Regions from separate parts of the Homo sapiens genome. Here all the other regions are linked to region 3. Evidence: fine-mapped expression QTL. A gene starts in region 3. Each other region holds a variant in brackets. All regions are shown on one strand. Distances are between the middles of the regions. Region 1 has its middle 13 kb from the start of FAM225A. Region 2 overlaps FKBP15 (FKBP prolyl isomerase family member 15). Region 3 holds the start of SLC31A2 (solute carrier family 31 member 2).

Evidence for each region.
Region 1: its variant is fine-mapped to the expression of SLC31A2 in whole blood (TOPMed, PIP above 0.99).
Region 2: its variant is fine-mapped to the expression of SLC31A2 in whole blood (INTERVAL, PIP 0.91).

What each region holds. Positions count from the first base shown.
Region 1 is chr9:113,123,410-113,127,653 of GRCh38, reverse strand. No RefSeq gene overlaps it. Among named protein-coding and RNA genes, the nearest start is that of FAM225A, 13 kb to the right of the region's middle. The variant T/A (reference allele first, on the strand shown) is at 1,942.
Region 2 is chr9:113,204,430-113,208,673 of GRCh38, reverse strand. FKBP15 (FKBP prolyl isomerase family member 15) reads left to right here. Exons shown (of 28, transcript NM_015258.2): 3 at 1,378-1,462; 4 at 2,096-2,165. Among named protein-coding and RNA genes, the nearest start is that of FKBP15, 15 kb to the left of the region's middle. The variant A/G (reference allele first, on the strand shown) is at 2,092.
Region 3 is chr9:113,148,498-113,152,741 of GRCh38, reverse strand. SLC31A2 (solute carrier family 31 member 2) reads right to left here and starts at 1,735. Exons shown (of 4, transcript NM_001860.3): 1 at 1,662-1,735. The coding sequence starts at 1,667.

The DNA of each region.
Region 1 (4,244 bases), 25 kb after region 3:
TTTATTATAATTAAAATTTAAAGACAAAAATTATGCACAGAATTCTTGATCTGTACTTCTGACTCTTTTCTTAGGACAGACTTCTAGAAATGCAATTACTAGGTGAGAGTGGAGCTATTTTTAAGGCCCTTGATTCATAATTCCAAAATATTTTCCAGGAAGGTTATGCCAATCTAATACCTACCCAAATTTTGTTTTTCGGACAGTTATGGCAGATACCGCTGATTGTCCACCCAATATCTACTCTTTCCTCTTCCCTGCGGACAGACCCTGATTTTGTTAAGGATAGCAATGTGCCCAACTTAAATCTTCTCAGCCTCCCCTGCACCCAAACTGGCCACATGACACAGTTCTGGCCAATGAGATGTAAACGTAAGTTGTTGGGTGGGGCTTCTAGGAAAGTTATTTACAAGGAGGCAAACTCAACTAGAGCAAGATTTTTGCCCTTTGCCTTTTCTTTCTTTTCAGGCTGGAAGTGGGATCATATGCTATAGGTCATGGGTGTCTTGTAACCAGAAGGTGATGAGCATGAGGACACAAGCCACAAGGTCAGGCTGGGCAGGCAGACACAGAAGGAAGCAGAACTTTTGGTGGCACAGCGGAGCCATCACTCCAGTCCTAGACTGCCTGCTTCTATTCTCCTTGTTACCTAAGAAAAATAAAACCTAAGTCACTATAAATTGGGTTTTCTGTTGTGAGCATTCATACTTATTCCTAATTGATACAACAGAAATATTTGTGCATGTCTGAATTTAAAAAGAAAAAAGTTATGTATGGAGGAAGATCTGGGGATAAGAAAAATGAAGACATAGTGGAAACACAGTTTCTCTTTTGAAAAAATGAGAGAATAATGAGAGTCTGTATTAGGAAAATGACATGTCGCACTATATGGAGGTGAGGGACAAGTATGGTGGCTCACACCTGTAACCCCAGCATTTTGGGAGGCTGAGGTGGGAGGATTGCTTGAGCCCAGGAGTTTGTGACCAGCCTGGGCAACATAGTGAGATCCTGTATCTACAAAATATAAAATTAGGTGGACATGGTAGAGTGTGCCTGTCGTCCCAGCTACTCAGGAGGCTGAGGTGGGAGGATTGCTTGAGCCTGGAGGTTGAGGCTGCAGTGAGCCGTGATTGTATCACTGCACTCCAGCCTGGGCAACAGAGCGAGACACTGTCTCAAAAACAATTTTTTAAATAAAAAGGATGTGGGGGCCAGGCGCAGTGGCTCGTGCCTGTAATCCCAGCACTTTGGGAGGCCGAGGCGGGCAGATCATGAGGGCAAGAGATCAAGACCATCCTGGCCAACATGGTGAAACCCCGTCTCTGCTAAAAATACAAAAATTAGCTGGGTGTGGTGGCATGTGCCTGTAGTCCCAGCTACTTGGGAGGCTGAGGCAGGAGAATTGCTTGAACCCGGGAGGGGGAGGTTGCAGTGAGATCGTGCCACTGCACTCCAGCTTGGAGACAGAGTGAGACTCCATCTCAAAAAATAAAAAAATAAAAAATTTAAAAAAAGATATTAGGGTGGTCTGAAGATGTTTTCACCAATGGCCTCAGAGATCTTCACTGTCCAGGTAGGATTAAGGAAGCTCCCTTAATACTTCAAAGGAAACTAACTGTTCTTCTGCACATTCTCATTTCCTTTTACTTTCTGTGTTGATCCTAGGTAATTCTTCCTTGGACTTTTTCTTCCATATCTTCTACCTCACTGAAGGACTGAAGAAGGTTGACTGTGTTAGAAATTAAACTGAGGCACGATTAACAATTCAAAGAGTTTATTTGAGCAAACGAAAATCCATGGATTGGGCAGCACCCAACCGTGGACTGGAGCTTCATTTGAGAGGCTTGAAGGAAAGGCTTTTATAAGGTGAATGAGGAAGCAAAGCATGGAAAATAATTGATTGTTTACAATTATGTTGTTGCCTTATTTGGATTACCCAGA[T/A]AAAAGTCCCCTAGTTATGTAATTGGAGGTTAGCTGGAGGTTTTGGATTGGTGAAGCTTAAATTTCATTTCCTCTCAGTCAGTCATTTATAAGAAATGCATTTGACTTAGGTTTTGGTTTGCTTCTGTGGGAACCCAAGGCATTACAGCCACTTCAGTCTGATGGTTCCTCTTTAAGTGGGCCAGCAAATAATGCTTAAGGATGAAAGAGCAGGAAGAGGCCCTGAGCCCAGAAAATGCCTGTCCACTCGTAGATGCTAGGTGCTTGGGACACAAAAATGCTCAGGCACAGTCCCTGTCCTCAGGGAATCCCAAGAGGTTAGAAAAAGGGACATATATTTTTACAGTGCCATAAACAAATGGAGTTGAGATTACAGGAAAAAAACAGGAGGCATCTCCCCAATCCAAGGGAGGCAGGTCTATGACTTGGAAGAAAAGCAGGAGTTGCCACTACAACCACCTTTGGTGGCCTGCCTGTTTCCATGTCCTTTACTGGCTCCTCTTTACCAACCCTATCTCTTCTTAATTTTGTTTATTATTTATTTAGAGACAGAGTCTTGCTCTGTCGCCCAGGCTAGAGTGCAATCTCAGATCACTATTACTTCTGCCTCCCAGGTTGAAGCAATTCTCGTGCCTCAGCCTCCCAAGCAGCTGGGATTACAGGCATGCACCACCAGGCTCAGGTGATTTTTATATTTTTAGTAGAGAAAATACAAAAATTTTCCCCATGTTAGCCAGGAGTTGGTCTCGAACTCCTGGCCTCAAGTGATCCACCTGCCTCAGCCTCCCAAAGTGCTGGGATTACAAGTGTGAGCCGCCACACCCGTCTAAATTTGCTGTTATTAACAGACAGGATCCTGGGATCCCAGACTTCCTGCCAGCCAGTTTACAAAGGCCAAGAGAGCATGGGAAACTGAGATGAATTCTGACAGGAGAATTCCTGGAGTGAAAAAAAAGACGTGGCAATTATGGGAAGAAATAGGAAGGTCCCTGCAGGGTTAGGAAAAGACTGAATAAAAATTCCTAAGTGTCTAATCAGTATTGTAACTGTTGATCACCCACAGAGTCCTGGTTCTTTAGGAAGAAATATATCTGGAGCAGAGGAAAGCAATTGGTTAGCTTCTATAGCTTGGAAATATCCCTCCTGAATAACCACTCCCTTATGCTTTAATTTGGCCTCCACCAGTAGCATCAGGGTCTGGAGCTGTTATGAGCCGGGTCCACTAGCAGGGCACATAAGGGGAAGCAAGTTACTCACCTGGGTCACAGAAAGAAAAGACTCACACCCTTGATGCCCCACTGCCTCTGTGCATCCAAAGGGTCTGAATGTGTTTCCCAGGACGTGACATCAGGTGTCAGATGACAATTCCCATGGCCATCCTGGCGATGCTTGGGCTACAAGTTATGCAAGGAGCCTCTGATTATCTGAATGTATTCAGCAATGCGACAGTCATACACCTACGATTTGCTTTGTGTAGTCAATGTGGTGCAAGCTGGCCTTGTATAGAAATTTATGCAAACATTTCTACTTAGCCCAAATAGGACAAGTACATAATATTAATGAGTTTACTGTAACAACTAAATGTTATAATACTTAAACATCTTCTGTCATTTAATAGCTCTCAGTGAGAGCTATTTATTTAATACTCACAAGTCTGTAAAATAAAATCAATGAAAAGTAAATGAAAATGAATCATAGGGAAAAGTTCGCCTAGGATACCTGAAATTTCAGTGACTGGTTATGGGTTGGAAAATGAGTTTGAATAAAAAGAAAAAAAATGGTATGTTATCCATTGCATAGAGACAAATTCTTTAAATTCATCTGAATTTTTGAATCATTGAATTTTAAATTTCTATTTAAACAGAATTTAAATTAAAACATTCTTCAGGCTGGGCGCAGTGGCTCACACCTGTAATCCCAGCACTTTGGGAGGCTGAGGCGGGTAGATCACCTGAGGTCAAGAGATCAAGACCATTCTGGCCAACATGGTGAAACCCCGTCTCTACTAAAAATACAAAAATTAGCTGGGTGTGGTGGCGCACTCCTGTAGTCCCAGCTACTTGGGAGGCTGAGGCAGGAGAATCACTTGAACCTGGAAGGCGGAAGTTGCAGTGAGCTGAGATCGCGCCATTGCACTCCAGCCTGGTGACAGAGCAAGACTCTATCTCAAAAACAACAACAACAAAAATAAACAAAAACAAAAAAACTATATGACATCTGCAAGTTTGTATTGTCCTTCATATTTAACTAAGTATTCCCTTAGGCATCCATGGGGCTAAGTATCAACATTTGGTTAAGCCAGC
Region 2 (4,244 bases), 56 kb before region 3:
TTACCCCATAATTCCATTTTAAGGAATTTATTATAAGAAGATAACTGGAAGTACACACAAAAATGTTGCATTTTAATTTATGTGTTTCTGTATTTTCTAAGTTTCCTACAATGCACTTGTACTCTATAATCAGAAAAAAAAGTGTTAATACAGAAAAAATCAAACGAGTTCTTTCAAAATATAAGTTCTTGCATGTCATGTCCGCATCAGTATTATCTCACTACTCTTCCATCACATTCATATAGTGAGTATAAATGTGATTTACTCTTAACATGGTATTTGAAAATGTTAGTGTTACTCTGTAGTCCCTTTTTTTTGTTGTTTTTTTGTTTTTTTTGAGACGGAGTCTCATTCCATCACCCAGGCTGGGGTGCAGTGGTGCGATCTCAGCTCACTGCAACCTCTGCCTCCCAGGCTCAAGCGATTCTTCCTCTTCAGCCTCATGAGTAGCTGGGACTACAGGTGCGCGCCACCACCCCCAGCTAATTTTTGTATTTTTAGTAGAGATAAGGTTTCACCATATTGGCCAGGCTGGTCTCGAACTCCTCGTGATCCACCTGCCTCGGCCTGCCAAAGTGCTGGGATTACAGGCACGAGCCACTGCGCCCAGCCTACTCTGTAGTACTTTGTGAAGTTAATTAATGGGTGTGATTTAAATATCTTACTGAATTTCCCACCCTAGAAGACAGGGAAGGGGAAATAACTTTATTTTCATATATTATAGCTGTCAAAATACTGGAAGGAGAAAATAAAATAGATGGACTATCACTTTTTAGACAGTACTCCTTGTCTAGCCAAAGACTTATTTGGGGTGTGTGGGTTGGGAGTTGGAGTCATGGGTTTCAGACCTAGGCACTATCATGGTATAATTGTGTGAGGCACTTGGGTGATTAGAACCTCAGTTTCTTCACCCCCAGACTAGATCATAGGGCTGCTTTGTGGATCAAATAAGGATAATCATAAAAGCATTACAACACTGACTGTAAATTATAAAGATCAATTTTGAAGCTAGTTCAGTGGTTAAAAATTAGTTTAAGGCCAGGTACAGTAGCTCACGCCTGTAATTCCAGCACTTTGGGAGGCTGAGGCAGGTGGATCACGAGGTCAGGAGTTCAAGACCAGCCTGTCCAACATGGTGAAACCCCATCTCTACTAAAAATACAAAAATTAGCCGGATGTGGTGGCACGCAACTGGAATCCCAGCTACTCATGAGGCTGAGGCAGGAGAATGGCTTGAACCCGGGAGGTGGAGGTTGCAGTGAACCGAGATCACGCCACTGCACTCCAGCCTGGGTGACAAAGTGAAACTCCGTCTTTAAAAAAAATTAGTTTAAAGCAAGAAGTGAATGACAACTTTGTTTTCTTGTTCATCTTCAGGAAATCAGGCAACACCAAAAACAGCACCAGCCACCATGAGCACTCCCACAATACTGGTCGCAACAGCAGTCCATGCATATCGATAGTAAGTCGCTGAGAAGGAACACCCTCTGAAGTTTGGTGGAAGGGCGTGCAGTTAAGCTACTTTTTCTCGAAAAACCTCTGTTTGTTGCAAAACGGTTATTTAGCCCTTCCACGGACAAAATATCAGTAGAACTTTTAACATCTGAATTGGAGATTTCTGTGGTAAAACTTGAAAAGCCATTATCTTGTCTACTGTCTTTAGGGAGTGCTTGTACCCTCAACAGCTGTCAAATGCTCAAAGAAAGCCTCTCCACTGAGATAGCATGAATGATAGATATTTATATTTAAAGAGTAAGGGAATAGTATATGAGCTTTAAATTATAAACTGCTGGGCCGGGTGCGGTGGCGCACTCCTGTAATCCCAGCACTTTGGGAGGCCGAGGCAGAAGAATTGCTTGAACCTGGGAGGCAGAGGTTGCAGTGAGCCAAGATCATGTCACTGCACTCCAGCCTGGTGACAGAGCGAGACTCTGTCTCAAAAAAAAAAAAAAAAAAAAAAATTTTAAACCGCTCACCTGTGTCCCTGCCTAGAGGCTGAATGACTGTTGTTCCCACTTCTGTATGACAGAAAAGAAAGCTGGTTCTGCAGAATTTAGGGAAGTATTAATACTTGTTGTTTCTCTTCCTTTT[A/G]TAGCACAAATGGTCAATATGTAAAGCAGGGCAAATTTGGTGCTGCAGTTCTGGGGAACCACACAGCCAGAGAGGTGAGAGTGCTCCCACATCTCATGTATATTCAGATGTCCCAAATAATACCAATGAGCTGGCTTTTATCTGGCTTGCCCGATGTCTTGTTTATCAGAAGATAAGGATGATTATTTGTATTGAATGTTAATTTATAACATCAAGCATATAGTAAATGATCACATTTTGCTTACTATTGTGCGTTAAAACAAATCCAACCATTCAAAATTGTTAAATTTGACCTTTGTGATATGATCCTAGCTTAAGAATTTGGGCATTTTTTTGTTTGTTTGTTGTTCAATTGTGGGGTGCGTGTGTACACACACATACACAAATACACACATATATATACACATACATATGTATATATAAGATAAAATTTGCCATTTAACCATTTTTAAGTGCATAATCCAGTGCCATTAATTGCATTCACAGTATTGATTGAGCAACCATCACTACTATCCATTTCCCAAACAGAAAGTGTAACCATTAAGCAATAACTCTACTTCTTCCTTTTTCCCAGCTGCCCATAAGGTCAAATCTCTTCTTGTTTTTATGAATTTGCCCTTTCTAGGTACCTAATATAGGTGGAATCATAACAGTATTTGTCTTTGGTGACTGATGTATTTCATTTCACATAATGTCCTGAAGGTTCACCCATGTTATAGCATGCATCAGTATTTCATTCCTTTTCATGGCTGAAAAATATTTCATTGTAGGTATATACCACATTTTGTTTATTCATTCATCAGTTGATGGACACTGGGTTGTTTATACCTTTTGTCTATTGGGAATAGACAAAAAAAGTATGTATCGTGAAGACTGACATAAAAGTATATGGTCAAGTTCCTATTTTGGCTGTATACTAAGAGTGGAAATTGCTGACTCGTATGGTAATTTTATGTACCACTTTTTGAGAAACTGCCAAACTGTTTTCCACAGCAGCCACACCATTTCACATTCCCACAAGCAATGTATGAGGGTTTCAGTTTCTTCACATCCTTGCCAGCATTTTGTTATTATTATTATTTTTAAATTCTTGCCATTCTAGTAGGTGTGGAATGGTACTTTATTGTGGTTTTAATGTGCATTTTACCCAATGTCTAATGTTGAGTATCTTTTCATTTGCTTATTGACCATTCATGTATTTTCTGTGGAGAGATGTCTACTCAAGCCCTTTGTCCATTTTAAAAATTGGATTGTTTGTCTTTTTGTTGTGGAGTTGTAGTAGTCTTTTAATATATTCTGAGTATTAAACCCTTATTTGCAGATATTTTATAGATTATCTTTTCACTTTCTTGATAATGTCCTTTGATGTACAAAAGTTTTTAATTTTGGTGAAGTCCATATTATCAAGTTTTTTCTTTTGTTACTTGTACTTTTGGTGTTTTATCTGAGAATCCATTACCAAAACCAAGGTCATGACGATTCACCTCTACGTTTTCTTCTAAGAGTTTTATGATTTTATCCCTCATGTTGTTTTATATACAAGTTGGGCCTACGGTAAAAAATTACTTGACATGTGAAGAGGTGGGAAAATGTAACTAATAATCAAGGGAACAAATAAACTAGGAGCAGACTCACAAATAACCTAGATATTGCAGTTAACATACAAGGCACTTAAAACAACTAGGAATAATATCTTAAAGAAAATAGAGGAAAAGTACAAAAGGGATGAAAAGATGGAGAATTTAAAAAGTTAGAATCTATAAGAATAATCACATGGCAGTCTAGATTTGAAAAATACAATTTCTGAAACTAAGAACATATTGGATGGGTTTAACAGAGTCAGAATACAGCAGGAGACAGAATTAGTGACTTCGAAGGCAGTAACATAGAAAATATTCAGACTGAAGCACAGAGAGAAGAAATAATAGAAAGAGACCAGGGCAAAGATTGATGTGGGACATGGTCTAACGTCCATGTAATTGGAATCCAAAGACAGTAGAATTATATCTTTAAAGTACTGAAAGGAAAACAAAACCCTGCCTATTACAGAATTCTATAGCAACAAAAATATCCTTCAAAAATGAAGGCAAAATAAATTTTCAGCCAAACAAAAGTGAGAGAATTCATTGTAGTAGATTTGCACTACAAGGAAC
Region 3 (4,244 bases):
AGGTCTGTGCAGACCCTGGCGATACAGAGATGAATGGGACAAGTCTTTGGCCCTTAGGGAGCTACCTGTCTATGAGGGGGGACATTTAAGTGAGCAAATAATTACAACAGGTTGTAGGTCAGAGAAAGGGAGGCACAGTGGAGGCTCCCTGGGGGTGCTGGGGACCAAGCCGCCTGAGAGACACCTGCCCTGGCCAGAGAGCAGTTGGCTAGGATGGTTCTGAAGCCAGAGAAGCAGGAGATAGCTGGGAAGATGAACTGTATGGTTTGTTCAGAGCTGGAAACACCCACGGAGTCCGAAGCCCCAGAGGGACGAAGACTCACCTGTCACTCAACCCTTTCTACTTTTGCCTTTTTGCTAGAGGAAAAGATGGAAGTCAGCACACCCTGACTTGAGAGAAGCGATCTGGGCTACAGTTTTCAATTAAAGGGCTTTGTGGTCAGATAGGCAAGGGGCAGGGCCCCAATCTTGTTTTCCTACTTGGGATGAATCTTGGCCTCTGAAAGTTTAACTGATTTGTGCTTTTTTCAGGGTGGGGCTGTGGTGAAGGAGGGAGCAATCCCTGGAACTTGTTTTCTTCTATATTTCTTCATTTGGGGTTACTTACACTTTGAGAAAAGCTTCCTTATTTGTAAACAAGGGTTGGGAAGGAGATGAAGGTCCCAGTTGCTAGGCTGACTGGCTGGGGAACTTTTGCAAGTGCTTTCCATCTATTTCCCTTTTTAAAGGACGGCTGATCATTTCACTAAATGGCCTACATACACTTCCTATATCTTTTTTTTTTTGTTTTGTTTGTTTGAGGACGTCTTGTTCTGTTGCCCAGGCCGAAGGTCATGGCTCACTGCAGCCTGGAACTTCTGGGCTCAAGCAATCCTCCTCATCCTGCCTCAGCCTCCGAGTAGCTGGGATTACAGGCGCCTGCCACCACTTGTGGCTAATTTTTGTAGAGACGGGGTCTAGCTATGTTGCCCAGGCTGAGCTTCCTGTATCTTAAATTCTATGACATTCTTCATGGGATGAAGAAAATGATATGACTTCTTCAAAGACGAACGAGTCTTGCAAGCTGTCGTTCTCTCCAGCCCAGGTGAACCCTACCAAGAAAAACAGCTTGTCTGAAACGCTGTTTTCTGACTGAAAGTGTAGGGAAGCTGGAAAGTAGCTGGTTCTGTTTTATTCCCCGAAGAATCAGGCTACAAACTTGACAAGAGCAGGGCCGGGGATGTGCGCTCGGTGTGCGCGCGGGGCTGCGGGCTGAAATGCGCCGGGGGTTTCCCTTTCGTGGAAGCCTTCCTGGAATCTCCCAAGGCGCTGCTCTCCGCCCTGGGGCGCCGGCCAGAGGTCCGGGGCCGGGGGCCCCGGACCCAGCTGTCTTCAGCCACCGCGCCCCCACTCTCAAGCCGCGCCACCGCGGGCGCTCGGTAACTGCTCGCCTAGCCGGACTGCCTCCCAGCAGGAGGGACAAATAAAGAGGAAAACCACAGAGCCACCGCAACCTATACCTGCCGCGTCCCCCAACCCTGTTCCAGCTGTTGGCAATGCTGCCAACACACCCTTCACCAGCCCCGGGCCAGCGGCAGCGAGGATTCGGGGTGCCGAGATGGCAGCTCCAGGAGACCCCGCCCCAACCGCCCACCCTCTTCACCGTAGCGCCCGGCCCTTACCGCCATGGTGAGTGCGCAGGGCGGGCGCCAGGGCCGCGTCTGCTCGCTCGGGTCTCCTCGCTCCGAGTCAGTTCAACCGCCGCCGCCGCCGCCGCCGCGATAGCTACCCTGGCCGCACGGATCACGTGGTCCGGGCGAGGCGGCGCGCGGGCGCCTGGGAGTTGTGGTCCCCACACGCGCCCTACTTCGGCGTCCTCGGGCGCGCCCCCTGGCCGAGACCCAGGCGCCTCGCCCCAGGTTCCCAAGGGCTGAGGCTTGGCGTTCCCGGAGTCGCGAGCGAGAGGGACCACCTGCTGCCCTCTGTCTTCGCCCTTCCTGTTTTGCACTTGGCTTGTCTTGGCGATTATGAGAATGTTTATTGCTCATTGTAATAAACTACCCCAAGCGTAACATATATTGAGTTGAAATGGGCAAGTCCGTGCTATGGACGCAATAGCAACACATTTGGAGTAAATTAAGTCAATTATGCCCTAGATTTTTAGTGTAGTCATTACAAGATAATTACATTTTTCTTTTTAGAAAAATATTTTCCAATCTGATAAGCCAAAAGGAATACACCCGTGTAATTTTGTTTTTCTTTGATTACTAGGGTAGTAAACTATTTTTCTTACGGGTACTTCCATTTCTGTGTATTGCCTGTTCATTTCACTGATCCAGTTTTTTGATGGGGAGTTTCTTGTAGGGTGAGGGATTTTTAATGGTTATTGATTCTTAAGCATATTTAGGAACCCTTTGCTAATCAGCCTATGAGTAAAGAGGCTCTTCAGAGAAACCTTACTAAGGACAGTATTAGCAGAGACCTTGAGCCTGGAGCTAACCTCAGTTCACATCCATACGCATCAACTATTGGCTTTGGGACCGTAGGCAAATAGCTTACATCTCTGAACCTCAGTTTTCTGGTCAGTAAAATGAAAATAATAATAAAATCTATGTCATAGGGATTAAATGAAAACATACATGTTAAATTATCATGTAACCTGGCAGTGGGAGCTTGTTCAGTAAATGGTAGAATCCTCAGGGTCACACAGCTTTTTTTCTTTTCTTTGAAACAGAGTCTCGCTCTGTCGCCCAGGCTGTAGTGCAGTGGCGCGATCTTGGCTCACTGCAACCTCCATCTCCCGTGTTCAAGCAATTCTCCTGCCTCAGGCTCCCGAGTAGCTGGGACTACAGGCGCGCACCACCATGCCTGGTTAATTTTTGTATTGTTAGTAGAGACGGGGTTTCACCATATTGGTCAGGCTGGTCTTGAAATCCTGACCTCGTAATCTGCCCGCCTCGGCCTCCCAAAGTGCTGGGATGCTGGGATTACAGACGTGAGCCATCTTGCCCGGCCCACACAGCTTTTAAGATTCTCAGTCTGAAAGCTAATGGAGCAGCTTCAGGGAGAGAACATGGGCCGTGGCACTGTGATGGGGCTGGAGAGGGAGAGCTGCTGCTGTCATGGTTTACTGGGCCATGGGGAAGCACTGGGGAGAAGGGCTAAGGGTATCTCTGAAGCATCTGGGTTCCAAGAGCTGGGGAGGGCTTTGGGTGTAGCTTTTCACCTCTCTGGGCCTTACATGGGAAGCAGGAGTAAGATAATCTGACCTTCACATAAGTGGGCTCTGGTGCACCCCACTCCCCCCACCTGCATTGAAGAATCTGCAACACAGCTTTATTCATTTGACGGTTTTTGTTGGCTTTGTCACAATCTGATGACCTTTACACTTACTTCTAACTTCCTCATGGATGTTTTGGTTACAACACTTAGCCAGGGAGTCCTAAAATTTCTTTCTGTACCACCAGAGGCACTCCTTCCCTGTCCCCCAGGCAGAGAGCTTGTTGCAAACCATGGGATCCTAGATCATAAGATCACAACACAGCCACCCAAGCCTGGGTCCATGGCAAGAGATTCCGGATTCTGTGTTTTGACAGCCCATGACTCCCCTCCTTTCACGGAGCAATAGTCTGTTGTTGTCTTTCCATAGCACACCTAGACCCCCCGAGACAGAATCCCCACTCAGGAAAGATGGCACTGCCTTGAGTGTCACAAAGATTATTTAGAGGCCCTTTAACCTGGGCTCATTTGTAGTCAGTTGATAGAGCGGAAATCCAACCAGTCATTTCTCCTTCTGAGGTTCAGTAGAGGAACTTGAGACTCATGAAAAGACCACATGCACAACATGTAATTCCTGCAGAATGTTGGGTCTTTATGTGTAGGTAAGGCTGTGTGATCCCCAAGGATGCCACTGCCCGTCTCTGGGACCTCGATGTCCCCATCCGTACAGTGAGGGGTGGAATGGATGACCTGCAACTGCCCTCCACGTGCTGATCTGCAGTTATAAGTGAGCCTGAGGGTGGAGTTGAACATGTTATGGCCAGGACCTTTGCATATTTTCCCTGTTAACTCCATCAACTAGCCTTCCATCTTCTCTCCAACGATACCTCTATTATTTTATATTTATGCCATGAGCAGTATTGTGGATCTGATGTGTGTGACACAGGAGGAGCGTGCACATTCAAGGTTGGCCTGTGTGGAGACAGTGGGTGTGCGTGTCGTGGGGGCTAGTGTTTACTGGATCTTGTGCTGGTAAGGCTGGAGGA